Linked DNA regions of Homo sapiens: region 1 is linked to region 2. Evidence: fine-mapped QTL for protein levels in blood plasma. Region 2 holds a variant in brackets. A gene starts in the other region. All regions are shown on their reverse strands.

Region 1 (15,563 bases), not on the chromosome of region 2:
GATTACAGGCGTGAGCCACCGCACCCAGCCCCATCTTCTTTCTTTATGATGCATTTCAAAGTAAGTTGCAGACACTGGTAAATTTTGTTCCCAAACCCTGCAGCATGGTATTGTCAACTAGAGTTAGATATGTGATTACTTAATTTTTTTTTTTTTTGGGTAAAACTTGCCATTGCTCTTTACTTGCTTATTTTCTTCACTGGGTTGAAGTGACTGCATCTATCTGTTTTCTATCCAGTGCCTCACATATAGTAGAAACTAAGTTGATGTTAGTTAAGTGAATGAGTTATGGATTTCATCAGATGTTACTTAGAGAGCTTCTTGATCCTATATAAGAGTAGTTTTATCACTCTTTCGTTCGTCTCCTCATTCTTCTGCCCAAAAAAGCTGTAGAAAGCAACTTTTATTCCACCCGTTCAGCATCACAGACGATTAAAATTTTTCATCTGTTAACAATAGTTGACAAACTCTCACACTATGTCTTTCTACAAAGTCCCACAAGGTGGTGCCCAAATATCTTTTTTCAAACAACACTTCCTGAAGACCCATGCAGAGTCCTGACTAAATTGTGTTAGTATTTGGCATTTCTGAATTTGGTCAATTAGAATAACAGAAAATATATAATTAAGTAAAAGTTACTCAACATTAAATAACATTATATATGTGATTTCAAAATCTATAGTTCTGGATATAAACAATGAATAATGATAATAGGTACTTTATTTCTGTGTAGAATTTAGTATTATTAAAAGGTTGTTCATATCCCCAAATAGGAAAAAAAAAATTCACCTCAAGTCCCCTTTTCTATAAATTTTGTCCATGAATAATTTACCCTTAGTATAGAATTTCTAAGGGCAGAAGGAGAAACAAACTGTTGTGCAGGAGGAACTATATAATTTAGATGCAATGAAAAAAACAGATGACCCTATTACCTTAACTGGGAACAATGTTGTGTAAACCAGCATTGTAACGGCTTAATATAACATGGGATAATAAGTTACTTAATGCTCTTAAAACACTTTTATTCCAGAAATTTAGAAGAGTTATTTTAAAACTTTTTTTGGATATTCTTATTAAATCTCAATACACTGACCAGAAAACCCAAGTAGGTATTGTGTTTCTACAACTTAATATTCATGCAAATGATGATATCTACCTATATTACTGGCTATGTTTTGATTAGGGATCAGTTATTGAAGTAGCTGTAACAATCCCCAGCTACTCAGATAAACCTGTCCAAACCTGGAGGAGAAAGTTTTTCAACCCAGGGTTCGAAGAGGTGGTGTTCATTGCCTTTAATGGCCCAGGCACTAAGATTTACACAGTGAGAGGTGAGACTCTTTAATGTGCTGGGACTTAGCCCATGATGATTTGTTCTGAGCCATTTGCCACTAAAGTTAAATCCTTATAAATATAAATTATTAGCCATACAGCTTCCTTTTTCTCCTGCTCAAGCACAAGCCTGGATAGCGCAAAGGCCTAAAAATTTTCTAGGGCATTTAGAGATAATGAAAGATGGCCACTTTGATGCACAAAGACCTAAATTTTAGTCCCTCACTGATTAATGATTTGACCTTTGGGTGGGTCTTAATATCTGTCCTCTATTTTATCAACTGTGAAATGGCAGAATTAAATAAAAGTGGTTTCTAAGTTTCCTTCCAGTTCAGAGATTTAACACTATTGTTTGTCCCCAATACAAGAAAAGTTTAAATACCAATCAGTGGTTATCAAATAATTCACCAAGATCTAGAATAACACTGTCTAATATCTGAAAGTAAAATGAACTAAGTGAAAAATAGAAATATTTTGCCATTTAAAGCAGAGTTTAGTCAAGGTATAAATAGATCTGATCTTTCTCTATTTGTAGGCTCTGCATGAAAAAGTTAAAACTGCTCTATCCATTGACCAAAGAAAATAATTAAAGAAAAATATTGAACATTCAAACCTATGATAGGACTAGATCAATCTACTTTCAGATATTTCTTAGAAAAAAAATTGTAAAACTTTCCAGATGGCACCTTGATTTATTTTTGGTCTAAAATAATTGCATTTAGTCAGGAATAAACAACATGGAAAGAAGAAATATTAATATTGAAAAAATATTTTAGAGAAAGAGATTAATAGTCATAAGATTGGTATAACGGGAATTTAGCCTGTCACTGTAGCCTATGAGGCACTGTGTGTTGCAAATGTGACACAATTATTCAAGCTGGGGATTGAATGACAAATAATGAAGCAAGAGATCTTAGGGAGTAAACGATATAAAAGATAATTGAGTCCGTGTTGCTGTACCCCGAAACTGCTCTAAACCATAAAGTTTATTAAATAATAGTAACAATTGAAAAATAGTAGAGGGAATGTGGAAGGATCAACTCAATCAGAATTTGGTGAGGGCATAGGAACTGAAGTCACGCTGTTCCACATTTAAGCAATGCCACATCCTGTATTTTATTACCAATGATAATTTTTATTTTCTTATTGTCTTTGAATGCTTTTAATCTTTCCCTTTGTTGACAAATAAGACCAATACAGTTTTGGTGTTTGCCATGGTTTGCATATTTGCCCCCTCCAAACCTCGTGTTGAAATTTCATCCCCACTGTTGGAAGTGGGGCCTGATGGGAAACGTTTGGGTCATGTGGGTGGATCCCTTATGAATGACTTAATGCCATCCTTGCGGTAATGAGTGTGTTCTCTCTGTATTAGTTCCTGGGGGAGCTGATTCTTTAAAAGAGTCTGACACCTCTCTCCCTGCTCTCTTGCTCCCTCTTACCATATGATCTGCACACGCTGGTCCCCTTTCACCTTCTGCCATGAGTAGAAGCAGTCAATGGCCCTCACCAGAAGCAGATGCTGGTGTCATGCTTCTTGCATAGACTGCAGAATTGTAAGCCAAATAAACCTCTTTTCTTTATAGATTACTCAGCCTTAGGTATTCCTTTATAGCAACACAAAATGGACTAAGACAGTGTTCCTCTAATTACTGATGAAGGAGTTGAGAGAATGCCTAGGTCATATTCTGGGTCCAAGGATAATGAATCCCAGAAATTTCAGAGCTTTGGGGCAGGTGTTAGAAATTCTACTATATCAAGCTTTTCTACTGACAAAAAGAAGAAAGAGAAAGAAAGAAAGAAAAAGAAAAAAAGAAAGAAAGAAAGGAAAGGATCTTCAAGAACAAATTTCTTCAAATCAGGTACGAAGGTCATTAATTTCTTCCTTGTTAGTTGGTAATGTTTTTTTTTTTCTACTCTAGATCAGCAGTGTGGGAGGTGGCTAAAATAGGGAGAAGCTTGTGAAACTATACTATGCCTTAATCTTGGTCAAAATATATAACTTTGATTTGTTACCAGCCTTTTTTTGTGTGTATTTCTATGACTTCATGCAGATACAATTCTCTGAAATATGTAAGTCCTAGCAGACTTGTCTCTTTTTAAATGATTCTAGGACCCCAAAATATCATCACCACTGAAATTAAGATGTTGGCACTGGTACTAGAATCAATAAACACAATGCAGATGCTACTATGGTAGCATATTAAAAGAATTTGAAAAAGTTGAAAAAAGATTTTCATCTAGCAGAGCTTTGGAGAAGAGCAATTTATTGTATCACAGACCTCAAGTGACTGATAAACACTAAAAATTACTTCTAATAATCATTTATTTCACAAATATGACTGCTTACTCTGGGCTATTTATAGTAGTAACAATGAAAATAGTGTGCTATATTTCTTCCATAAAGACTTTTACTACAAAATAACTGTCAGAAGGGCATGGGCTCCACGTTGCCTTTTTCTAGTCATTATGGTTATCCATGCTCTCTTATTTGTTCTGGTGTAAGTCCAATAGCATACTAATTCAAGACCATCTGTTGGGATTAAGATTGTGGTGCATTGTTTCTCTGGGTGCAAAACTAATTGTCTTTTATAGATTGATGAAACTGAAGATTTTATTTTGCATAATCTTCCCAATTAATTTAGTGCTGATTTTCACGCTTGAGAATGAGAGGTGGCAAATCTTTGGTTTGAGTTACCCTATTTAATGTTGGAGAATGAAAGGGAATGGATGACTAAGTTGGACTCCAACCTCCCACCAACTTTAATCAAAACAGCTCCAAGGCAGGAGGGCTTTAGTCCATTTCCCCCATCTAGGAATCACCTGTTTGCTTCTTAGTGGCATTATTATTCTGCATGTTTTTAACCTGCCTCAGCAAAAAGAGAGTTGACCTGAAAAGATGCTACTTCCTTGTCTCTTGATTCTCATCTTACAAAAGTAAAAAGTGTGACTAACACCCATAGGCTATCAGGTAAATACATGGTTGTTCCCTAGGAAATTCCGTTGTTATTTCTGCATTATACCCACCGTTTCTTCTTTCTGTTACCAAAGCCTCACAAAACTTCCTCAGTTCCTCGAAACCTGTTTTGTGAGGAGGAGACAGTGAAAACACAGACGTTCGCATAGATACTTAATGATGCAGTAGTTGTTATAAGTGAGGCTCACAGGTCTTACCAGCCTGAGTTAAAAGTTCATTTTGCCATTCTCTGGTTTTAGTATGACAGCGGACAAGTTACTGAACCTCTCTCTGCCTCCATCTTGGAAAAATTCGAATTCTTACAACATCTACTAAGTACAAGGGGTCCTGGAATAATATTTTGTTCAATGTCATTTTGTTATAACATTGATGAGAAAAAAAATTCAATTCCTGGGCCAGGCTCACTGTGTGGAGTTGACATGTTTTCCCCATGTCTGTGTGGGTTTTCTCCAGGTCCTGGAGTTTCCTCCCACATCCCAAAGCTTTGCCCATTAGATGCATTGGTGTGTCTACATGGTGCCTGTCTGAGAGAGTGGGTGGGTGTATGAGTGCCCTTTGACAGTACTGCATCCTGTCCAGGGCTGGTTCCTGCCTTGTATCCTCAGCTGCTGGGACAGGATCTGGTCAACCGTGACCCTGAACTGGAATATGCAGGTAAGCAGTTATCTTGTTTTTATCAATCTTTCATAAATGTATATATAGCTTAGATTTATTTCAATGTTTATTATTAGAGGTGTTTTGAGTATTTAGAGGTTTAGTGATGTTTTTGTGACTAGGAATATGCCATAAGAGCTTAACTCTTATTTATATCAATTAGCTCTTGGGAAAATTGTCTTCATTATCAATTGTTTCACTTTATGTCACAGTTTCCAGAACCTACAGAGGACATTAAGTGAGGACTTACTGTATATAGGTGGTTGTGCTTGTGAAGGATTAAATGAGGTAATGTGTGTGAAGCACTCAGGACAGTGCCTAGCACCTGGTAAGTGTCCATGAATTGGAGGCTATTATTGCTGTAATAAGGAAATTCATACACATTAAAATGGCTAAGAAAGTTCATTTTAAATAACCGTAACATGCACATTTGTATTGCTTTCTCGGATGATCTTGCTATTCTCTATTTCAGAGGAAGTCCGTGGAGAAGCCTGCCTGTTAGCTGTCTAGGGGTCAGGTGGCTTCTTGGCAGTATATATTACATGATAAACATTGACTTAATATGGACCATAACCACAAGGTAGAAAATAGGGAAACAGGGAGTGGAAAAACCACAGTGATCCTTTCCTAGAGAGAGACCAAAATATTAACCGCTGTAAACCTCTCATGTTACAGTTCGAACACATCTTAATAAATGATTAAATCTACTCTCTCATTTCATAAGTGGGGAACTGAAGCCCCCATAAAAGTTAGGGGCAGAACTATGACTATACTCAGACCACTCTTTCCCTGTATATTATATATACCTTTTATTATAAAAAATTTCAAAAATCACAGAAATACAAAGACTAGAACAATGCACACCTATGTACTCATCATCCAGCTTTAATAACAATCAAACTGTTACCTCTCTTAAAAAAACAGCTTTGATTCTGAGTCTGGTGTCATTTATACTCCTTCACAGAGATGTTCAGAACCAGTATCTTAGAGCACATCCCCCAGGCAAAGAAATGTAGCAATAAAAAGAGAAGGACATAGCATGAGAAAAAAAGGCAGGCTGTCAACCAATGCCTAAAATGTAGAAAGTTCTCTCAAGTTGTTTTTACAATAGTCTGGAAAACACAGTCTCATTCTGAAAGGACACTGTTCCTTTAAATTGCTTACTGATCCCACCCAGATCTTGCACCCTGGCCAAATGCCTGACCACTCTTGCTTTGACTTAGTCGAATAAACATGAACAAAAGACTGCAAAAGATCCTAAAGCAAAGACACTTTTATTTCCCACAGAACAGAACAATATCAAATAGCTAACTTCACCCCCAACCACAGTCCTTGCTGTTGGCATTTACTCAACTAGTCTTTAATTCCTGTTTGACAAACTTTATAAGGTAAGACATAACAGATTTATTTTAGTCACTTGAAATCAGATAGGACCATCAAGGAACTGTGGAAGACTAAATGACTTACTTACATAATTATTAGGTGAGAAAGCTTGTCAATAGTTTGTATTCTCTGCAATTACTTCAAATCAATTATTAGAAAAATATTAACATTGTTAAAATGTAGAAATTTAAAACTTAAAATTATTTTGAAATGGATTTTTAATTTACAGTCTTCTAAATTGTTTTACAACGATGTTAATATATTTTAGGACATCTTTTTCTTAATTTGGAACAGGGTTTACAATTCAGAATTAGTTATAGAATACTTTACAACTTGGCTAATTTGTCAATTTGAATAAAGTCTTTATTCAATCATTTTCTATTTGTGTAGAAACTGAGATGCAAACATTGTAACTAAAGTTGGTGAACTCTGATATAAGATCATTTTATTTTTGAAAAATTATAAAAAATAAAGTATCTTGGATTTATTTACTGATCCTGATATTTACCCCAAATAAATTTTAGGCCAAAAGTAAAACTACGGTATTTGATTAATAATTATGATTGTTTCTGCATTTATAAAATGTAACCTATAGTAAACACAGAGGTTCACATTTCTTTCACTTAACTAATGGCACTGTTTCCTCTGAAACCTATTTTGCTTGTACGTGACATCAGAAAGAGAGAAAGGTGAGAATTATTAAAAACAGAGGCAAAATAAAACATGGTAAAAAGTGATTAGAAATGAGTGGGCTCTCAAGATGCCAAATTAATAAACGAGAAAGATATTTCAGGGAAGCAGTAGAACTAACAAGCTAGAGAAACAAATCTAGAGAGGTATGAAAATGTCCTCTGGCTACAATAGGGAAACAGAAAGAAATAACAAGACTTTGGTTTGGGAGAGCTAGATTAACAATGTCAGAGCAAATAAGAACAAAATATGAGATACTGGGATTATTGTCAATGGAAAAGTTATGTTTGTGAATATCATATATACAGGGATCAGGTACAAATTCATGATTATATGCCAAGAAAACAGTAAGAGCAGGTGCTTAGTTTTGGGAAAAGATAAATCTTTATTTAAAGCCAGTATTTCTAAAACCTTACATGAAGGGTTTTGAAGAGTTGCTTGATTATGTTGCTTATAAAATCTTGCTCAGTTCTCAATGGAATTCAGTTCTCAGCCTCTTATTTCCAGAACTTCTGAGATGTTCCTTATGGTATGAACTCAACCAAAGAGAAAAGTCATATGTAATACCATGGCCATGGTGTTATTCCCTTTCCCCTTTGAAAATGCAATAACAACTGTGTTTTTCACATAGCCTTATCTTTACACTAACCTTCAGACTTAAAGTTGTACATCATTTATTTTTTTCCTTGGTTAGCAAAGGGACAACTTGAGGAGAGATGGCCTTTGTGTGTTCTGTTTCCTTAGCACATTTCTTGGTTTTGTTTTGTTTTTAATACCCAGCTGTCTTTACATTTTAGTATACCTTGTCTGAGGATCAGTTGGCATTTGGCCAATTGCTACACAAGATGTTTGGTCATACCTATCCAAAGTTCTTTTAATACACTTCCAGCTGGATGATGCTATGTGAGGAGCAGACTGTGGCATGAAGCCATCCATTGGTCCTCTCCTAACCCAACAGTTTTGTTTCCCTTTGGGGTTTATCCATCTGGCATGTATGAAAAAAGTCAGTCTCCATCTCACTCCTCACTGCCTTTGCATATATTTCCACTCTCTACTCAGAGTCTGGAAAAATCGTGCTCATGATTTCCCAGATTCTTATCCCCTAAAGGCAAGGTGCCAAAGAAGGAAAATGTGATTCCTTTTCCAGAACTCCTGAAGTCAATAAAGTTTCAGCAGGCAAGCATTTTTAAGCCATACTAAGTATTGATTCGAAATAAGCTTTCTCGTTCCCATTCTCTTGGGTATACTGAGGCAGCAACACATGAGTCTTCTCCTCCCAGGGAAATCTGTCAGTTTAAGAGTCAGTTGGTGTGTAGCTAGGCATATTGACTGATGAAGATTGAGGATTTTAATACAGAATTAGATTTTTCGTTGTTAATCCACCCAGAAAAATAGTTTCACGGGGCTATTCAGAGGGGGTGCTTCTTGGCTTTAAGTCCCGTTTCTGTCCATTAGTTCTTTTAGCCATCACTGGAAGAAGAGTGTTGCTTTTAAGCAAATCTATTATTTTTGCTCTCATACTCTTTTGATTCATTGCATATGCAGCTTTGAACCCCTGGTGGAGACAAAGTTTCCAAAGCTAGGGTAGAAAAGAGAGATGGGGTTCTATGGAAACAGAAGGGTCGTTTAATTTTTACCTTGACCTCTGAACTCACTGAAGTTATGTGTGTAGTATTAAGCCTGAAAGGGTGGTGGTTGTCTACAGTTCTACAAAATACTAGATTTGTCAGGAATCAGTTATAATGAAAGTGAATGAAATGACCATATAGCAATCTGAATTCCCCCTGAAGAATTTGGAAATGTCAAAGCAGACCCTGTGATTGAACCACAGTAATCATATAGAGCGGGATTGAAATGTTTTTAAATGGCTCTCCCAACTCTATGCTCCTCAAAATACAATGCGGAATTAAGAATACTTAAATATAGTTCTTTGAATATATAGAAATATTCACTAATAAATGTTTGGTCATGGTGCCATGATTTATTTGGATTGAAATCTTTCAAAATCTCAATGTGAATATTTTTCTAGAAATATGAATGAAAACCTCTTTTTTCCAGTCACATGCCAGTTTTCAACCCTGCTGGCTTGAAATTTAAAAATAACAAACACCATATTTTATTAAAGTATTTGTAACTGACTTTTCTATTAAAGGTGCTACAAGACAGATGATTTTTCACCATCTACCATAATGTGGAACAGATATTTTGTCTTCTATCTCCTGCTTTTGTCAGCGTTTACGAGTCAAACAGTATCCGGACAAAGAAAGAAAGGACCAAAATCAAATTTGCTTGCAAGGAAAAGTGATGTCCAGGGTAAAAAAAAAAAAATTGTTTGTTTTTAAGTTTAGCCTGTTAAAAATACTTATGTGAATTTTTCTAAATAGCATTTGATATAAATAGCAAGCCATATACATGTATACATGTGATAGTCTACTTTGATAAAATTATATGATGATAATATACCTTACATACTTATAGCACATCAGAGTCTTTAATAAGAGCACTTGTGCACTTATTATCTCATTTGAGCCTCACAGTAACCTTGTAAAATAGGCAGGACGGAGATTGCCACTCATAGTGTAGATTAAAAAAATTGAGGTCTTAACAGGTCGAGTGGCATACTCAAGGCCATAGGCAAATTAACCACTGAGACACAGAGCTGGGATTTAAACTTAAGTTGTGTTTAAGTTAGGTTTCTTCTCCACTTACTCTTGGTATAGGGGGTATAGTCATTTTCTCCCTTGATTTCAAGAAAGTTTAAAAAAAAATAGGGACTCACCAATATGACACAACCTGAGAATTAGAGTATCATTTACTTCTAGACAACTATGCTCAGTGTTAGTTGGATTTTTAAAATGTGATGCATCTTGACTTCCCATTTCCTCCCACTTTCAGCAGGTTTAACATTGAAAAGATGCTCAGAATAAAAGATATCTTATTTATTTTTAATTTGCATGATTTTACAAGGAGAAAATAATTCATAAACTTAGACATTTAGTTTTTTACAATTGAAGCCTTCTGTCCAACGTGTCTCTCTTTCTCTCCTCACGCTGCTCTCAACACCAAACAATATACAACACACCACTTCAGGGCTTTCCGTATGCAAATTTGTTTCATGATAGGAATAATTATTTTGCCTAACCTGTTTATTCTGTTTCAGGCTCCATTTGTTTCATAGATATTGTCTTCATCGTGGACAGCTCTGAAAGTTCTAAAATTGCCCTCTTTGATAAACAGAAAGATTTTGTGGATAGCTTGAGTGACAAGATTTTCCAATTGACTCCTGGTCGCTCCTTGGAATATGACATCAAACTGGCAGCCCTTCAGTTTAGCAGCTCTGTCCAAATTGATCCACCTTTTTCTTCCTGGAAGGACCTGCAGACATTTAAGCAGAAGGTCAAGTCTATGAATTTAATAGGGCAAGGTACCTTCTCTTATTATGCCATTTCCAATGCCACTAGGCTACTTAAGAGAGAAGGGCGTAAGGATGGTGTGAAAGTGGTTTTGCTGATGACTGATGGCATCGACCATCCAAAGAATCCAGATGTTCAAAGTATTTCTGAAGATGCCAGAATTTCAGGAATATCATTTATCACCATTGCACTTTCTACGGTAGTCAATGAAGCCAAACTTCGTTTGATTTCTGGGGATTCATCCAGTGAACCCACTTTACTGTTGAGTGATCCAACCCTTGTAGATAAAATTCAAGATCGTCTGGTAGGTACCTAATGGGTTGATTATACAGTTATCATCATAATATTGACATATTTGTTGTAAATCCCATAAGAAGAGATACTGGGTCAAAAAGATGGAGAAAATGAGAGTTAACACTGAAAACAGAAAGAAGAATCTTTCTGAAGTGTCACTCCACTTTCTTGGCAGTTTACTCCAGACAATCTGGAAAAGTTCCAGGCTAATTCCCTGGAATTGCATTTTTAACTTTATTGCTAGCTGATGCTGAGGATTTTGGAAGGGGTTATTTTCCAATCATATACCTTAAGCTCCTGTTTATACAGCCTACAATCATGAACATTGCTGACTTATATTCAGGTTGTGCTCAACTTGAGGTGTTAGGCTATATTTGTACCAAGTTGGTCTTTTCCCATTCCACATCTGTACAGGTATTTTTGACATAATCTTGACATATTCTCTCTTACTCTTCTAAAGGACTGAGTATTTTTGACTCTGTCTCACCTATTGTTACATTATGCTACTCAAAGTTCATAGACTTCCAATTTTTAAAATTACCTCCTTCTTTCTTAGATGTTCTCAAGCCCATCCAATTTAAAATCATCTGCAACCTGCAGTCAAGCAACAGTTTCTCCCATCAAATCAATGAGTCCCACTTGATAGGTCTGGTCAGCTTTTCTTTGTTTGTTGCTCAGCTGTGTATAAAAGCCTTTCCTTGCTGCTTTGTAAAACACACGGCACCACAATCAAAAGGAAATCCCTCTTCACAATATTTCTCAAGGAGAAAACGCCTAGAGATAAATTGGTTGATTGGCTGAGTGTTAAAAACTGATTTTCTTAAAAACTTGGATTTCTTTGATTTCCTGAGAAAGGAAGGCAAAGGTGTCCTTTATGTACTGAGCGTTTCATATGGCTGTTTTCTACAGCTTGCACAGAAAACTCAGGCTCTATTTCAGAGATTGTTTTGCTCCTTTTGTCTTATCCCTCGATCTTTTTCTCAACATTACTCTTATCTTTTTACTCTCTGTTGCTTTCAGCATAAGATCTGAGGTTTTCTTACCTAAATAATAGCTCTTAGGTATTGAGTACTCTCTCTGTATTAGGCATTTTCCTGAACACTTTATATATTTTATTTTATTCAATGTTTGCCACAATCTTATGATGTAGGTAATGTTATTATACCCATTTTGTAGTTGAAAATTTAAGGCCGGTGAAGACCTCACAGTTTGCATGCTTAACCCTATAAAGGCATATTGAGAGAGGAAATAGTAACTGCTTTTTAAAAAAATATTTTCTCAATCAGAACTGCTCTGAAACAGTTTGGTAGCAGCCCTCCTCCAAAGTTACTATTGTTTCTAGCCTTTTTTTCCTTGGGGATTCGGGGTAAATGGGAGAGTTATGCCTAGATCAGAGATAGAGCTGATGGGCCCAGTCCTGTGGTGCTCAAGGTAAGTACTCATTCTGAGCAGCTCTTTTGCATGAAAGGGAAATTTGTAGTGGTTCCTGGCTAACACTTAGCCCTGCCTGTGCCATGACTTAAGGGGTCCTCACCACTGAACATAAAACAGAGGGCTCCAGCCCGTGTGGGAGAGAATCCTGGTGATGTGGTCATGAGTGGGCTGTTGTTACTTATTCATCTTCACCTTAAGATGGATAAGAGCTGACCATAGAAGATGCGGGACAGGCAGCTCCTTGTTTGGCCACAGGTGTAGGCTCAGGTTGTTCATATTCCCACCAGATACACCCTCGCTGAGAGCACCTGCTTCACTGAGAACACAGGCTCTTGGCAGTAGACTGGAAGCAAAATTGTTTGTCTGTTCCTGGGCAAACAGAAAATGACTGAATACTGCTCTTCCTTAGCATCCGGCGACTTCAGCTTGTTTGTTTAGCATCTGTGATTTCAGCTTGTTTGTTCAGATGGAAGCTCCATGAATAAACCACTTTTTAGAAGGAGGTGCTGCTTTCCAAACACTTACAGGATCCAAAGTGCTTATTAGGCTCTTCAAAGAATGGTATACCAACTTTCAATGTTACAAATTGCCACCATCTAGAAGGCAGAACTTGACTCTTTTTTTTTTTTTTTTTGAGACAGAGTTTTGCTCCTGTCACCCAGGCTGGAGTGCAGTGGCACGATCTTGGTTCACTGCAAACTCTGCCTCCCGGGTTCAAGCGATTCTCCTGCCTTAGTTTCTCAAGTAGCTGGCATTACAGGCGCCTGCCACCATGCCCGGCTCATTTTTTTGTATTTTTGAGTAGAGATGGCCAGGCTGTTCTCAAACTCCTGACCTCAGGTGATCTGCCCGCCTCGGCCTCCCAAAGTGTTGGGATTACAGGTGTGAGCCATCGCGCCGGGCCCAGAACTTGACTCTTGATGAGACCATTGGAAAAATTCTTTATCTAATCCCTTTCTATTACATCTTTAGTTGAATTTTTAAACTTTTTATTTTAAAATAATTATGTAGTTGACTTTTTAAATAAGTTAATTAGGTATGATTTAAGTACACAACTGCATTAACTTAAAGGGCACAATTCCATGAGCTTTTGACATAGGTACACACCTATGAAACTACCAACACAATTAGGATAGAGAACATTTCCATCACCTCCCCAAATTGCCTCATATCTCTTTGTAAGACCCCATTTGCTCCTGAGCTACTGATCTTACTTTTGTGACTCTAGATTAGTGTATACTTTCTAGAATTTTATACAAACTCAAATAGTATGTATTATTTTTGTGTCAGGCTTCTTGTACCCAGTATAATGATTTTCAAACTCATCAGGGTTTTTTTCTGTATCAGAAGTTTACTCCCTTTTATTGTAGAATAGACTTTAGTTGAATTTAATGGACACGAGTATACAGAATGAATAGATTCTTCAGGAGCAAAGACAAAACAAATCATTGCAAATTCCTTGATGCCTCTAGTAGGAATTATCATGTAAGAACCCCATAGAAACATTTTAGTTCTGAATTACTCAAAAGAGACTTAATGACTCCAAATTGAAGAAGACATGTAATATATTTTTATTGCTATTTTTATTATAATTTACATAATAGTATTGAAACCAAACAAACAAATTCATTCCAAAGTCCTGGATATATTACTTGGTCCTGTAGAAGAGTAAGAGAGGATATGTGAAAATTAAAGACAATTTTTTCCCTCTATTGCCTTTGATGTTAAGTATTTAAAAAGCCTTTATGGAAATAAGGGTTGTGACAAATTTGTCTTTTTTTCTGAACGATTTTTAAAAAACATAAATTTAAGGTATTCCCTCCCTCACATACCAAGAAGAGATCAATGTGATGATGTCTATATCATCTTTAGAATCCTATGCTTTCTTAATCTATTAATTATGATCACTTTCCATTTTTTCAAGACTTCCTCTGTTTAGGGCCTTATTTTTCTGTTTTAGATTTTATAGTGGCCATTTTGCTACCATTTTAAGTTGAATTTTTTTGTCACAGGGTTTGTTCCCCTTGCCTACCGAGTGCTTTGCTGTCATTCCATGTGCTGTGATATTTGTCCATCCCTCACATGTTTTCTGTCCCCTTCTCACAGCATAAACCTTATACTCCTTGAAAAATTGGTGATTCCATTCTAGCATTCTGGTTTTGCATATATAGTATATGTGAATATATGCCATATATATGAATCCATTAATGAAATTCTGACTGCATCTTCTTTTGCTGTCATGAGACCCTTTCCCTATTTATCCTTTTCATTGAAACTCAAGCATGCCCCCAGTCTGTCATTGAACATGGCCTCCCGTCAGGCTTTGACACTGTTCTCCTTGCAGCCTGCTTCCCTGCCTGAGTGCAAGCCCTCGCCACCTCCCAAGGCCTCCGGCTCTGTCCATGTGGGCCCTTCCATCCACTCCCTTTAAATGTTCCTCATAACTACTTCCTTTGTCTTATTGCCCACACTAGTCCTTATGACTTTTTTCCTCATCAACTTTGACATATAGGACAGCATACCATCAATGGGTGGTCCTTTGCATTCCTCTCTTCAAAACCATCCAGAAAACCCACCTATTCCAAGAAGCCATCTTGTTAGCGGCTCCCCCGCCCCTGGCCTAGGACCTCCTTCCTACTCGGGTTGCTGTGTGTTGTCCTCTGTTCCTGGGGCTTATAGCCTATAAGAGCCCTCAGGGATGGGGCTTTGTTCTTTGTTTGAAACAGTCTTATCTATTGTGTAGTTTTGGGTTCATTTTTGTTTCCATAGAAATATAAATTCCAGCAAACACAAAATTAAATGAGTTCCAAAAATAGTTTTTTGCATTGCTATGGTTTTAAGCCTTATGCCACATATTTCTAAAGAGCAATATGGCAAAGAAGAAATTGAATTTTAAAAGAAAGAACTGAAAAAAGTATAAAATTACACATCAGGCACAGTAAGAGCTGAATTCGTGAATTTAAAAATTGATTAAGATATTGCTTATTGTGGCTAGGTGCGGTGGCTCACACCTGTAATCCCAGCACTTTGGGAGGCCAAGGTGGGTGGATCACTTGAGGTCAGGAGTTTGAGACCAGCCTGGCCGACATGATGAAACCCTGTCTCTACTAAAAATACAAAAATTACCCTGGCTTGTTGGCGTGCTCTGTAATTCCAGCTATTTCAGAGGCTGAGGCAGGAGAATTGCTTGAACCCAGGAGGTGGAGGTTGCAGTGAGCCAAGATCATGCCACTGCATGCCAGCCTAGGTGACAGGGCGAGACTCCATCTCAAAAAGAAGAAAAAAAAAAGATATTGCTCATTGTTAAAAGATTTTAAAGTGACAAATATTTAAATTTTTCTTTATTTCAGTAGTGGTTTTTAAATATTACAATTTGACTTGAATTATTA
Region 2 (15,563 bases):
CTGATGCTTGAGGATTAGGACCCCCCACTAGGAAGGGTCCCCCTTTGGGAGAACTGGAGTGCGCTTTTAGGTTTTCAAAACCACAGCATCTCCAAAGATCTGACCCTGGGGACGTGAATAAACTGAAATCTCACAGAAGCGTTCTTAGCAGGCGCGGCCCGAAAGGGCATTTCCTAACATCAGTACAGGCAAATTTGGGGCATGAGCCCTCCTTCCTCAGACCTTCAGTGCTTCCTGAGTATCCAAAGGTGGTAAAAGAAACGTTGCACGTTTTCTTTTCTTTTCTTTCATTTTAATTATTTATTTATTTATTTATTGAGATGGAGTTTCGCTCTTGTTGCCCAGGCTGGAGTGCAGTGGCGCTATCTCGGGCTCACCGCAACCTCCGCCTCCCAGGTTCAAGCGATTCTCCTGCCTCAGCCTCCCGAGTAGCTGGGATTATAGGCACCTGCCACCACGCCCGGCTAATTTTTTGTATTTTTGTGGAGACGGGGTTTCACCATGTTGGTCAGGCTGGCCTTGAACTCCTGACCTCACGTGATCCGCCCACCTCGGCCTCCCAAAATGCTGGGATTACAGGCGTGATCCACCGCGCCCAGCCACATTGCATGTTTTCAAAGTTCAGGAGAGTTTACATTTTCTCTTAGTAAGCGAAAGCGGTTTGTTGTTGTTGATTATTTTTAATATACATACAGTAAGACTATTTTAAGCGTATTTCTATGAGTTTTCATAAATGCATATTTACACCACCAAAACAGAGAACATTCTATCACTCCCCAAATACTCTTGGATTGCCCAATTGTACTCAACCTTTCACCCCTAACCACTGATCTGCTTTAGCCACCTGTATCTTTGCCTTTTCCAGAATGTCATGTTACGTGAAATATGTAGCCTTTTGAGCCCTGTTTGTAAAATTCGATGCCATATTTGTAAAATTAGCTAATTATACTTGTCATTTATTGATTGATTGAGACAAGGGTCACATCCTGTCACCTAGGCTGGAGTGGGAGGGGCACAGTCATAGCTCACTGCTGCCTCAAACGTCTGGGCTTAAGTGATCCTCCCGCCTCAGCCTCCCCGGTAGCTGGGACTCCAGGCATGCAGCACCATGCCTTGCTAATTAAAAAAAATTTTTTTAGTAGAGACAAGGTCTCCTTATGTTGCCCAGGCTGGCCTCGAACTCCTGAGCTCAAGCAATCCTCCCACTTTGGCCTCCCGAAGTGCTGGGTTTACAGGTGTGAGCCATGGCGCCCAGCCTATTATTGTCTTGTAGAATTTTCAGTTTAAAAACATTTGACAGGCTGGGCACAGTGGCTCACACCTGTAATCCCAGCATTTTTGGGAGGCCGAGGTGGGCGGATCACCTGAGGTCAGGAGTTGGAGACCAGCCTGACCAATACGGAGAAACCCCGTCTCTACTAAAAATACAAAAAGTTGGCCGGGCATGCCTGTAATCCCAGCTACTCAGGAGGCTGAGGCAGGAGAATCGCTTGAACCCAGGAGGCAGACGTTGCGGTGAGCCGAGATCGCGCCATTGCACTCCAGCCTGGGCAACAAGAGCGAAGCTCCGTCTGGAAAAAAAAAAAAAAAAACAATCGACAGAGCTAAGTATAAGAGGTGGCAGATAACAGGCCTTCAAAACTGAGAGGTTAAATTACTATGTTTACATCAAGATATGTGAGTTAAGGTTAAGATTCTGTGTTCCTTGTGCTTAACTTTCTTCATTTGTATGATGGGAGGGAAGCTGGGAACAGGAGGTGCAATGAGATGGTAAGTCATATTAATCTCTGCAGTACTTAACATCGAGAAATTGACAGAATTTCATTTGCTTTCCTCATTAACAAAATGCAAAGCTATTGGCCAGGGGTGGTGGCTCTCAACTTTAATCCCAGAGCTTTGGGAGGCTGAGGCAGGAGGATTACTTGAGTCCAGGAGTTCCAGACCAGCCTGGTCAACATAGTGAGACCTCATCTCTACAAAGAAACAACGCCCCCCACCACACGCACACAGAAAGCTATTACATTTTCTTCTCTTTCCTGTGAGCCCATTTGGTGGAAGTGCAAACTTATGAAAATCATATCTTTGAAAAGCAAAATGGGCTTTTTGAGCTTTGCAGATTATTAAAACACAAAACTTCCATCCACTCTTATGAAAATGCCTTTAAAATTTCCCAGTTTCAGGATGTCAAGTGTACTGGGGGGCCTCAAGGCCACCCCCAGTGGTTCAGTGATTTGTTAGGGGTACTGAAGGGAACTGGCATATAGTCAGCCTTACAGCTAAGACTTATTACAGTGCAAGGAAACAGAGCCAACTATTAGCAAAGGGATGAGGCACATGGGGTGAAGTCGGGGAAACCAGGAATGAGCTTCCAAGGGTCCTCCCTGGTTGGCAGCGTACAAGATGCTTTTACTGCCCGGGAAACTAATTGTAACAGCATGTGTGACTATTTACCAACCTGAGAAGCTCAATAGATACTCTGCCAGGGTTTTTTTTTATTGCCAGCTGGTTATGATGCACTCACTGCTTGGCAAATACCAAGATTCCAGATGCCTGGAATGAATGGTGTTTTGCATAAACCATATTGCTTGTGCAATTTTGACACAGCTGACCTTGTAAACGGGCCTTTCAAGGGATAGCACTCAGGCCTGTTTTGCTAAGTTTTTTGCAGTGCAGCCTATTGGCCCCTGCTTTACAACAAAATAATCATCAGTAAGACCGTCACAGCATGGGGGTAATGAGCTTGCAGGAATGATTCCAGCTATGCCCTTTAGGGGTTTCGGACTTAGTTAAAATAAAGGTCTATTTTAGAAAGCCACCTGGCTTCCTCCTTAAACTTGTGTATGAATCCTTTTTACCTGTCCTAACTTACCAAGTGTGTGGTAGAGCAGAACTCTTGCCAGTAATTTGAAGCTTCCACAGCTCAGACGGTGTTGCAATAGGTTCCACACCTGATTACAGTCCCACAGGACACACAAGGTACTGCCGGAAACTGAGTTTACAATTGTCAGGGCAACCTAAGCAAGACATCCATTAGTCAGCAGTGAAGGTTAACAGACACTCAGCGCGGACTCCCCCTGTAGGGAGAATTCTCAGTCCTGTCCAATGAGGTTAGTTGAGTCCCCGATTTCAGAGGGACTGCCTGAGGCAGTCAGTTCCACATGGTTTGCTTGTCTATGACCACAGATCATCACTTTCACCACTGTGGCCCTAAGGGTGTTCTGCAGGGCAGGAATAGCAGCTGGGTGGCTCCCTCACGGCGTGTCAGGGTGGTCTAGGCTCAGCAGTCAGTTTGCGTTCAAAGAACTTACTGGGCGGGCACATTGGCTCACGCCTGTAATCCCAGCACTTTGGGAAGCTGAGGCAGGTGGATCACCTGAGGTCAGGAGGTTGAGACGAGCCTGACCAACATGGTGAAACTTCATCTCTACTCAAAATACAAAATTAGCCGAGGATGGTGGCGCATGCCTGTAGTCTCAGCTACCTGGAACGCCAAGGCAGGAGAATCGCTTGAACCCAGGAGGTGGAGGTTGCAGTAAGCCAGGATCACGCCATTGCACTCCAGCCTGGGCAACAAGAGTGAAACTCTGTCTCAAAAAAATAAATAAAATAAAATAAAAAGAACTCACGGGACTTTGGAAAGCAGCACAGAGGGTTTTCCTTCAGGAGGAAGGAAAAAGTTGCAGGAAAGATTCTGAAAAATAAGATGAACACTCGCCTCTGCCCTCCTCCAGCCACCTCCTCAGATGCTTTTGGATATTTCCTCCTGTTACAAAGTCACTGTGTCCCATTGGGCAATCATTTTACATTTAAAAAAATCATCCTTTAGTGTTATCCAGACCTTTCTTCTGGAAGGGTTGTATGGAATAGGAACAGTTTTTCCACAGAAAAACCTTTTAATGCTATTTACTCAAAGACACAGGTTTAAAAATTGGTTGTGATAAAATATGAAATTATCAAAAAAATTTCAAGATGGCTTTACGTAACCTCCCATCCCTTTTGTCCTGATCATTTATCCAGTGAGCAGCTCAGAAAAGATGTCTGTTTCCGAGGGATAAGTACCTTACTAAGTTGTGTGTACCAGGAGATGGTGAGGGAAGCAGGGTCAAACTGTCCATCCACTGTTACAAACTGCAGTGAATCCAGAAAGCCAAACACAAGCCATCAGCAGTGAGGCATCCCCCAGGTGGGGGGTCAAGAGCCCAGTGTCAGGAATGGGTGGAGGTCACAGTGCCTGGCTATGCCCTTACCAAACTCCAGCTTTTGGCAGCAATCACGTTTGCCATGCAGTCATTCTCCGTATAAGATGAACCCTCTACTATTTATGAAATTTCAAAAATTTAATGTTTTATGTCAATTTTTAACATTCAGATGCAAGAGCCACATACGACAAAGGCTTTTATTTTTATTTATTTTTGAGACAGAGTCTTGTTCTGTCGCCCAGGCTGGAGTGCAGTGGTGTGATCTCAGCTCACTGCAACCTCCGCCTCCCGGGTTCAAGCAATTCTCCTAGCCTCAGCCTCCTGAGAAACTGGGATTACAGGCATCAGTCACTGCGCCCAGCCAATTTTTGTATTTTTTAAGTAAAGACGGGGTTTCACCACGTTGGCCAGGCTGATCTCAAACTCCTTACCTCAAGTGATCTGCCTGCCTTGGCGTCCCAAAGTGTTGGGATTTACGGGCGTCAGCCACCTGGCCTGGCGAGCCTTGCCATACAAAGGCTTTTTTATTTTTTAAAGACAGAGTCTCGCTCTGTCGCCCGGGCTGGAGTGCAGTGGTGCGATCTCGGCTCACTGCAAGCTCCATCTCCCGGGTTCACGCCATTCTCCTGCCTCAGCCTCCCGAGTAGCTGGGACTACAGGCGCCCGCCACCACGCCCGGCTAATTTTTTGTATTTTTACTAGAGACAGGGTTTCACTGGGGTCTCAATCTCCTGACCTCGTGATCTGCCCGCCTCGGCTTCCCAAAGCGCTGGGATTCCAGGCGTGAGCCACCGCGCCCGGGCTTTTATGAAGGCCCCCCCTTTATAAAATAATGGCAATTGTGCCCCCAGTATCAAATGCAGCATTTGTAGCCTTAACATCATAGCCGTCAGATGTTGGATGTCACCCGGCACCCAGGTTGGAATGCAGGAGGCTGGGGGAGGGACCTGCTGCAGCAGGAGCTAGGCTAACACTCAACTTACAACTTGTGTAGGTAAGATGCTCTGTGGTCCACATCAAATGGGAACCCTCTGATCAGTGACAATCATGTTCAAATTCATGGCCGCATATCACATGGCCTAAAAGTTTAAACCATTGCAAAAATGAAGCTGAAGCATACCCGTGTTTATTGTTACGGGGAGTCATTACTGTTAACTCCAACAATGCACACCTGTGTATCTATTGCTCCCCACCATTTAAACAGCCCTGAGTAGTTCTTTGGTTAAGATTGTCAGGGTAGAAGTGCCGGGTGTGGTGGCTCACGCCTGTAATCCCAGCACTTTGGGAGGCTGAGGCGGGTGGATCACGAGGTCAGGAGATCGAGACCATCCTGGCTAACACGGTGAAACCCCATCTCTACTAAAAATACAAAAAAATTAGCTGGGCGTGGTGGCGGGCACCTGTAGTCCCAGCTACTCGGGAGGCTGAGACAGGAGAATGGCGTGAACCCAAAGGCGGAGCTTGCAGTGAGCCGAGATCACCCTACTGCACTCCAGCCTGGGCGACAGAGTGAGACTCCATCTCAAAAAAAAAAAAAAGAATTTATGTTAATGTCAAAAGTTTTAAGTATATGAAAAATTGACCTTTAAGAAGAGTGCATGAGCTGGTACACATCTGGGAATGCTAATAGATAGTGCCTAAACTGACAGAATTACAAAGTTGATTTCATATTCCATAATTGCAATGGAATATTTATATCTTCAGAGTAAAAATATTTGTTATTATATAATTTATCTGAACATGGTTGATAAAATCTAAGAAACCACTACAGAGGAATTTGACAAAAAGTGTCTTGTTCTTAATAGCATATAATTAAACATAGTATTGAACATATACTGAAGGGTTGCACTCGGCTCTGAGTAATAGGAAACTCCACCAGTCTGCCTGATATGAGAGGTGATTATTCTTACATGGACTAAGTAGTCATTCAGCGATGCTGTACACGATCAAACGTGTGTGTGCGCGCTTTTTGGCTGGTGCATAGGCTGTCATGGTTGTGTCTGCACACAGAACCATAAGCAGTACTAAGAGAACAAAAGAAAATGTTTAGTATAAAAATAAGGTAAGACCTGGGCTGGGCACGGTGGCTCACACCTGTAATCCCAGCACTTTGGGAGGCCAAGGCAGGTGGATCACGAGGTCCGGAGTTCAAGACCAGCCCGGCCAACATAGTGAAACCCTGTCTCTACTGAAAATACAAAAGTTAGCGGGGCATGGTGGTGCATACCTGTAGTCTCAGCTACTTGGGAGGCTGAGGCAGGAGAATCGCTTGAACCCGGGAGGCGCAGAGGTTGTGAGCCGAGATCACACCACTGCACTTCAGCTTGGGCAACACAGCAAGACTATGTCTCAAAAATAAATAAATAAAATAAAAATAAGGTAAGACCTAAAGGAGGGAGTTAGCTTCAGAGATGATCACCACGACAGTCAGAATCAGTGGCCTGGTGGACGTGGCAGGTGTTGTAGCAATCCACACTAAATGTCTTCATGTTGGGAGAGCTCATGGAGATGTCTGGCTGAAAGTTAGGCAGCTGGTGTCTGTTGTAGAGACACTCTTCATTAACAGTGGCAGGAATGAGTACAATGATCCAGAAGGCTGTGTGCATGGTGCGCCTGTGTGCCACCTTTATGTCTCTGAGTATGCTGGCTCTACAAAGCGGGTAATGACTTCTCTAGTCCTGACTGCCAAACCTCATGCACAGTAGAAAATCAGCAGATTTTAACTTGGTGCCATAAAGGAAAGACATTCAGGGAAATGTCGTTCCCAGCCTTACACATATATCCGTAACAAAACCATCTACAGATTTCATTCTTGTTTTGTAGGTCCCCATTCCTAATTCAAAGGCTGCTGTCTAACTCCCAGTGAGAAATGAGGAAAAACAAATTGCAAAAGATGATTAGAGACTATACTTTATAGAGAACTCTGCATATTTACCAGGTTTTGCAAAAAAAAATTTGGTAAGGTACAATATATAAAATAGGTAAGTGATATCCACTATCTGTAGCAGTAGGCCAGTAAGAAATACCAAAGTTTTATTGTTGTAATGATCCCATACAGAAAAATATAGAAACTATAAAAATTATGTCATGTTTGGCCGGGCATGGTGGCTCACGCCTGTAATCCCAGCACTTTGGGAGGCCAAGGTGGGCAGACCATGAGGTCAGGAGATCGAGACCATCCTGGCTAACACGGTGAAACCCCATCTCTACTAAAAATACAAAAAATTAGCCAGGCGTGGTGGCAGGTGGCTGTAGTCCCAGCTACTTGGGAGGCTGAGGCAGGAGAATGGCGTGAACTTGGGAGGCGGAGCTTGCAGTGAGTGGAGATCGCACCACTGCACCCCAGCCTGGGTGACAGAGCAAGACTGTCTCAAAAAAAAAATAAAAAAAAAAATTGTGTCATGTTCAAAGTATGCTTCAAATCACCATGGGTCTAATACAGTTCGAAATGAAAATATTTAAGAGACAAAACACTTAACTATTAAAACTTAGGTACTATAGCTGAAAGAGGACTTAGAGAATTATTTTCTCACATAAACATTTATTTTTGAAAGAGCTGGAAATTCACGACTAATGGGTCTGTTTTACAAATGAGGTATTGACAAAGACAATATCATACTTGTAAGATTTCTCTCCTGGTGTGAATTTTCTGGAGCATTATACATGAATTAATGTGAGGTTACCCCATTAAAGTTATAGAATTTCTCTTTAGTGTGTGCTCTCACTGGTTTTAGAAAGAATGACTTGGCAACTGAAGGCTTTTGAGTATGACTGACATTCGTGGGATTTCTGTCCTGTGTGCATCCTCAGATGGTTCCGGAAGGAGGAGTGCCACTTGAAGGACATCCCACATTGTTTACATTTGTGAGGTTTCTCTCCAGTGTGCATCCTCACATGATTATGTAAGGTTGAGGACCAAGTGAAGGTTTTTCCACATTGTTTACACTCATAAGGCTTCTCTCCAGTGTGCATCCTCAAATGACCTTGGAATGCTCTGGAAGAGGTAAAGGCCTTCCCACAGTGTTCACATTTATGGAGCTGCTCTTGCGTGTGAATTCTCACATGTTCTCTAAACGTTGAGGACCAAGTGAAGGTTTTTCCACATTGTTTACACTCATAAGGCTTCTCTCCAGTGTGCGTCCTCAAATGACCTCGGAATGATCTGGAAGAGGTAAAAGCCTTCCCACATTGTTCACATTTATAGAGCTGCTCTTGCGTGTGAATTCTCACATGTTCTCTAAACGTTGAGGACCAAGTGAAGGCTTTCCCACATTGTTTACACTCATAAGGTTTCTCTCCAGTGTGC[G/A]TCCTCAAATGACCTTGGAATGATCTGGAAGAGGTAAAAGCCTTCCCACAGTGTTCACATTTATAGAGTTTGTCCCCAGTGTGGATCCTCATGTGGACTCGCAAGGTTTCAGACCAACTGAATGTTTTCCCACACTGCTTGCATTCATAGGGCTTCTCTCCCGTGTGCGTCTTCTCATGTCTTTGAAAAGCCTGGGGGTAAGTGAAGGCTTTCCCACAGTGCTGACATTTATAGGGCTTCTCTCCAGTGTGTGTTGTCATGTGTCTTTGAAATGTCGAGGGATAAATGAAGGCTCTCCCACATTCCTGACATTTATATGGCCTGTCTTTTGTGTGAGTTCTCACATGTCTAGTGAAGCTTGCGAACCCATTAAACGCCATCCGACACTGCTCGCATTTGTAGGTTTTCTCTGCTGTGTGAGTCTTTACGTGGTGGGAGAGGTAACGAGGATGTTGGAAAGTTTGCCCACATGCTTGACACTTATACGGCTTCTCCTCAGTGTCAGTTCTTCCGTGACTGTGTAGGTGTGAGGGACAAATGCAGGCCTGCTTACATTCCTCACCTGGAGGTGCTTTTCGTCCACAGTGAGACTTGACGTGCCTTTTAAGAGAAGAAAGATGCGTGAAGACTGTCCTGCACTTGGTGCATTCATATGGTTTTTCTCCAGCAGAAACTTTCTTGTGCAGGGTAAGATCTGGCATTTGATGGATGGCTTCTCCATATTGATTACCTTCATTATGTGTACAGAATCTGTCCACCATATGATTTCTGTTAAAAATGAGAGACATTTTTATGTATGGTATGTTTAGTAATGATGTGTTGAGATGTATTAACAAGTATTAGAAATAATGTCTAACTACATTTCAGTATACGTGAAGTTTTTCTATTCTGAATTGTTTGAAGAGACATATTTTTTAATGCAGTATTTATTATATATGGGGTTTTCCTGTAATTTCTTTTTATTTATTTATTTTTTGAGATGGAGTCTCACTCTGTCACCCAGGCTGGAGTGCAGTGGCGCAATCTCAGCTCACTGCAAGCTCTGCCTCCCAGGTTCACAGCATTCTCCTGCCTCCGCCTCACAGGTAGCTGGGACTACAGGTGCCTGCCACCACGCTCGGCTATTTTTTTTTTGGTATTTTTAGTAGAGGCGGGTTTTCACCATGTTAGCCAGAATGGTCTTGATCTCCTGACCTCGTGATCCGCCTGCCTCAGCCTCCCAAAGTGCTGGGATTACAGGCGTGAGCCATCGCGCCCGGCCCCCTGTAATTACTTCTAACAATTATGTTTCAAATTCTCAATGTCTTAGTCAAATACAAATTTTTTTTTTTGGTTAAAATTCTGAGGAATAAACAAATTTGGAGCAATGCTTATATTTGGAGCAATACTTAGATATATATTTAATTGCATACAAGGATTTTTCTCTTGTGAGTGCAACTCACCTCAGATTTTTGTGGTGGTCTTCAGTGCCATAGCCTTCACAATTTTTTTCTAAAGTGTAGGCACAGGAATTATTTCCTGTGAAGTTTGGTATTGTCTGTTCCTTAGATTTTTCTTGCCCGTACATATCCTGCAGAGAAACTGACCCATTGGCTTTAAATTGAGTCCCATCATCTGCAACAAAAAAGTAAACAAATCTCAAAAGGAATAAGACACGTATTAAGCAAAGGAAGACACTGAGGAGTTTAGCATTTTGAGGACCTCATCAATAACAGACATAAGGGGTCAAAATGTTAGGTATTTCACAAACACAGTAAGTCACAGGTATCAAACAAGGAACCACTCTGTGATCCTAAATGACCAGTGAAATCTATACCCCTACTAATGACACTAAAGGAACTTCAAGTCCTTTAAACCAAGACAGAAATAACATCTGTTTCACACATGTTTTCACTGTTAGGGAATAATGACTAGATTCTAGGTCCATGGTGGCTGTGAACATGTCTGTCTTAGTCCTTTCCCACATTTCACATCTTGCAACAGAACTGATGAGAAAGAAATGAGTTCATTAAAAACCAAGGGAAGGAATGATGCCATCCTCACCTACTGAGGCCAGGTTCCGGAAGGTCTCCAGCATCACATCTCTGTAGAGGTCCCTCTGAGCAGAATCCAGCAAAGCCCACTCCTCCAGGGTGAAGTCCACAGCCACATCCTCAAAGACCACTGAGTCCTAAGACAAACCACACAGGTGTGCAGGAGGATTGGAGACACTGAAAGTACTGGGGAACTGGACTCAATTCATAAATTCAAACAAGATTCTGTGGTGTCCCAACACCTCCTCTATGACGCGAATGTTAGATCTTTTACTTATTCACAATCACTTCCTAGTAAACTTCATGGCACCACTATCAGTCTGAACTTATCTCTGCCTTTTTACTGCGACTGCTCTTATTTTCCTCTACCAGGAGGGTCTAGAGAAATGCTATGCAAATGAAGTAACTTTTCCATTTGAAACGTTGCATAACGCAGCAGGCCTCGGTTGTCCAAACGATGCACATTTCATAGGACTTTCGGAAAAGCCTTCCACCAGCTACTGCAGAAAATGGTAAGTCCTTGGAATCCCCTGCCTGGTGAGGGGATCTTTGTATGGACGGGCCTGAGGCTGGCCAGGGAGTTTCTAACAATGTGACTTAAGAATTCCTGTCTTTGTCTGCCTGGAGCCCTAGGCAACATTGTATCCGTTTTCCCCCTTTATTCCCCTTTATTTTCTTAAATTATTTTAAAGGCAACTGTATGAATATGTTTGGAAAGCACTGTTGGATGTATAACACATAAGAATACCTATTTGCCAATAACAGCACAGAGGAGGAGGGTGGGAGGGAGCAAAGGCATATTTAAGCAAAGGGACATGACTACAGATGGTAAAGTACTAATTAAAACGCACTGTTTTGGCATATAATATTCATGGATGTAGCATGTATTCATATTGCCATAGAAGTTGGAGGGGCAGGAAGGAATAGAGCTACACACGCAGCATTTCTGTATCTCACTGGAATCGAGCGATGAATATAAACCCGAAGCTCATCTGATAAGCCTCGCATTGACAATACAGTAACCCCTAAAGAGACCAACAAACAGTAAAAAGTTAAACAACTGAAAGGTTTCATTAGAAAATACTTAATGAAAATGAAAGTAGTGGCCGGGTGCAGTGGCTCACGCCTGTAATCCCAGCACTTTGGGAGGCCGAGGCAGGCAGATCACCTGAGGTCGGGAGTTTGAGACCAGCCTGACCAACATGGAGAAACCCCCGTCTCTGCTAAAAATACAAATTTTGCTGGGCATGGTGGTGCGTGCCTGTAATCCTAGCTACTCAGGAGGCTGAGGCAGGAGAATCACTTGAACCCAGGAGGTGGAGGTTGCGGTGAGCCAAGATTGTGCTCTCCAGCCAAGAATGTCACTCTAGCCTAGGTGACAGAGCAAGACTCAAAAAAATAAATAAAAATAAAAGAAATGGATAATTAAAAATACAAGTTGAAACATAAACACCCATTCTTTTTTCTTTTTTAGTTGAGCACAGCATCATCAATTACCCCACTTTTTAATGAGAGAACATCTAGGTGAAATACGAGGAAATAAAATAATTGAACACTATAAGTCATTTAGACATAGCAGACATCTGCAGAACACTGAACCCAACAACAGCAAAACACACATTCTTCTCAAGTGCAGAAGAACGTTCTGTAAAAGAGACCCTTTGCTAGGCCATAGAAGAAACCTCAACACATTTTAAACAATAGAAATACAAAATATTGGCCGGGCGCGGTGGCTCACGCCTGTAATCCCAGGATTTTGGGAGATCAAGGCAGATGGATCGCTGGAGCTCAGGTGTTCGAGACCAGCCTGGGCAACATAGTGAGACCCTGTCTCTACTAAAAATGCAAAAATTTGCTGGGTATGGTGGCACACACGTGGATTCCCAGCTACTTGGGAGGGTGAGGCACGAGAACTGCTTGAAGACAGAAGTTGCAGTGAGCTCTGATCACATCACTGACAGAGTGAGAGTTAGTCTCCCCCCACCAAAAAAAAAACCAGAAATAAGTATGTTCTCTGACCACAATGGAATGAGAAATGAAATCTGAAACTAATACAGAAAATTTGGCAAATTCACTAATATGTGGATATTAACACACTCCTCCATAACTAATGGATCAAAGAGAAATCAAAAGGGAAATACTTCGAGATGGATGTAAAATAAAGACATAATATACCAAAACTTATATAAAGGAAGTTAATAGCTATAAATACCTATCCTAAAGATTGCAAATCAACAACCTAACGTGGTCCACCTCGACACAATAGGAAAATAAAACTAAACCTAAGCAATTAGGAGTAAGGAAATAATAAATATTACAGGCAAATTAATGAAATAGAGAACAGTAAAACAATAGAGAAAAATCAATGAAACCAAAGCTAGTTGTTTGAAAAGATCAAACAAAACTGATTTAGCAGCCAGGCACAGTGGCTCACACCTGTCATCTCAGCACTTTAGAGGTGGGTGGATCACAAGGTCAGCAGTTTGAGACCAGCTGAGCCAATATGGTGAAACCCCGTCTCTACTAAAAACACAAAAATTAGCTGGGCGTGGTGGCGGATGCCTGTAATCCCAGCTACTCAGGAGGCTGAGGAGGGAGAATCGCTTGAACCCAGGAGGCAGAGGTTGCAGTGAGCCGAGATCGCACCATTGCACTCCAGCCTGGGTGACAGGGCAAGACTCAGTCTCAACAACAAAAAAGTGGGGAAAGGATGTAAATAGACATTTCTCCAAGAAAAATAAACATTGTCAGTAATTAGTCATCAAAGAAATGCAAATCAAAACAAAAAGGAGATACCACTTCTCACCCACTAGGATGGGTAAAATAAAAAACTAAAAAAGAAAATAAGTTTTGGCAAGGATATGGAGAAACAGGAATCTTCACACATTGCTGGTGGGAATGTAAAATGGTACAACCAATTAAGAAAACAGTGTGGCAGTTCTTTTTAAAAGTTAAATGACTTCTAGTTTTTGGTCCAGCATGTAAGGAGCTTGGAAGTTATTATTCCCTTGTAACAAAAAGCTGAACAAACTGAAACCTCAACAAGCTCTTCTTCCATCCTTCAGAGAACTGATGTCACAAGGCAAGCTCTGCCCCCTCAAACTGAAGAGAGAGGCGGATACAGAGAGTCATAACTTACCAGAACACGCAACCATGAACAGAAGCCTCTGTGGGAACCGTTACTTAGATGGGAAACCCTGAGCTGTAACTGATGAATTGCTGGGGGCACAGCGGGCCCAAGTCTGAGTTAGCAATCTCAGGGGGCCCAGTCTTGTAGAGGAGAAGAATAATGATTTTGAAATAGGCTAGATATTTCTGCTCTTTCTCACCGGGCCTTTCCCTTAAAACTATTTGATCAGAGCCTCACCTGTTGGGGTTTCATCAGTGTCTAAATTACCTGTGGAAAGAGATGTATCCCCCATCATCTTCCTCTATTCATCTTGTCCCGCCAAGTGAGAGGAGAAGGAAGAACTGAGAAGCACTTGTGAAGTTCAGTGTCGCGGGGCACAGGCTCAAGAATAGACTGAGACGTCATCAAAGGATCAGGGAATCCTTGCCCTCTGCCCACATCTCACCACTGGGTTACTAAAGGTCTATTTACTTCAGTGCCTTTCACCCAGTACATTGCGTCTGGCTTTCCAGAAAGAAATGACAAGGCATACTAAAAGGCAAAAGACAGAGCTTGAAGAGATAAAGCAGAACCCCTCATATATGGCAGGGACATTGGAATTATCAGACTGGGAATTTAAAACAAGTATGATTAACAGGTGAAGTGCTCTAATGGAAAAAGTAGACAACATGCAAAAACAGGCAATACAGGCTGAGAAGTGGAAATCCTAAGAATGAAAAAGCCATGGGAGAGATTTGAAAAGCACTGTAACAGAAATGGAGAATGACTTTAATGGACACATGAGTAGACTGGGTGTGGCTGAGGAAAGACTCTGAGCCTGAAGACATGTAATGAAAACTTCTAGGTTGGGTGCGGTGGCTCATGCCTGAAATGCCAGCATTTTGGGAGGCTGGGGCGGGAGGATTGCTTGAGGCCAGGAGTTCAAGACCAGTCTGGGCAACATAGTGACACCCTGTCTTTACAAAGTTTTTTTTGTTGTCGTTTTTTTTTGTTTTTGAGACAGACTCTCCCTCTGTCGCCCAGGCTGGAGTGCGATGACACAATCTCAGTTCACTGCAACCTCTGCCTCTCGGGTTCAGGAGATTCTCCCGCATCAGCCTCCCGAGCAGCTGGGATTACAGGCACCCGCCATCATGCCCAGCTAATTTTTTTGGTATTTTTGTAGAGACAGGGTTTCACCATGTTGGCCAGGCTGGTCTCAAACTCCTGACCTCAGGTGATCCACCCACCTCGGCCTCCCAGAGTGCTGGGATTACAGGCATGAGCCACCGTGCCCGGCCACAAAAAGTTTTTAAAAATAAGCTGGGCTTGGAGGCATATACCCTGTGGTCCTAGCTACTTGGGAAGCTGAGGTAACAGGATGGCTTGAGCCCAGGAGATTAAGGCTGCAGTGAGCCATGATTGTACCACTGCACTCCAACCTGGCTGATAGAGCAAGACCCTGCCAAATAAATAAATAAATATCTCTAGGGCTATCACTAAAAAAAGGAAAGAGAAGCATACCTGACTTGCTAAGAAAGGAGAAAAAATGGAATCACACAAAACATGCAATCAAAACCAAAAAAGGCAGAAAAAGAGTGGAAGACAAAATAAGGAACAACGAACCAGGGCAACAAAAACAGAAAACAGTAACCAGGCCGGGCCCGGTGGCTCACGCCCGTCATCCCAGCACTTCCGGAGGCCGAGGCGGGCGGATCACGACGTCAGGAGATGGAGACCATCCTGGCCAACACAGGGAAACCCCGTCTCTACTAAAAATATAAAAATTAGGCCAGGCGCATTGGCTCACGCCTGTAACCCCAACACTTCGGGAGGCCGAGGCGGGCAGATCACGATGTCAGGAGATTGAGACCATCGTGGCTAACATGGTGAAACCCTGTCTCTACTAAAAATAC

Direction of the effects. Positions count from the first base shown, and alleles are read on the strand shown. Strength reflects both the effect of a copy and how common the allele is.
With allele G in place of A in region 2, the plasma level of the protein whose gene starts at base 6,225 in region 1 is lower (weak association).

Evidence for each region. PIP is the posterior inclusion probability: the model's chance that the variant is causal. The UK Biobank Pharma Proteomics Project read protein levels with antibody pairs (Olink). The fine-mapping took linkage between variants from a reference panel, not from the people measured, so its PIPs are less certain.
Region 1: COL28A1 starts here. The variant in region 2 is fine-mapped to the plasma level of the COL28A1 protein (UK Biobank, PIP 0.99).

What each region holds. Positions count from the first base shown.
Region 1 is chr7:7,526,535-7,542,097 of GRCh38, reverse strand. It overlaps COL28A1 (collagen type XXVIII alpha 1 chain), which reads left to right and starts at 6,225. Exons shown (of 35, transcript NM_001037763.3): 1 at 6,225-6,348; 2 at 9,186-9,346; 3 at 10,194-10,750. The coding sequence starts at 9,223.
Region 2 is chr19:2,910,634-2,926,196 of GRCh38, reverse strand. ZNF57 (zinc finger protein 57) reads right to left here. Exons shown (of 4, transcript NM_173480.3): 2 at 10,549-10,675; 3 at 9,948-10,119; 4 at 7,724-9,273. The coding sequence ends at 7,908. Among named protein-coding and RNA genes, the nearest start is that of ZNF57, 17 kb to the right of the region's middle. The variant G/A (reference allele first, on the strand shown) is at 8,506.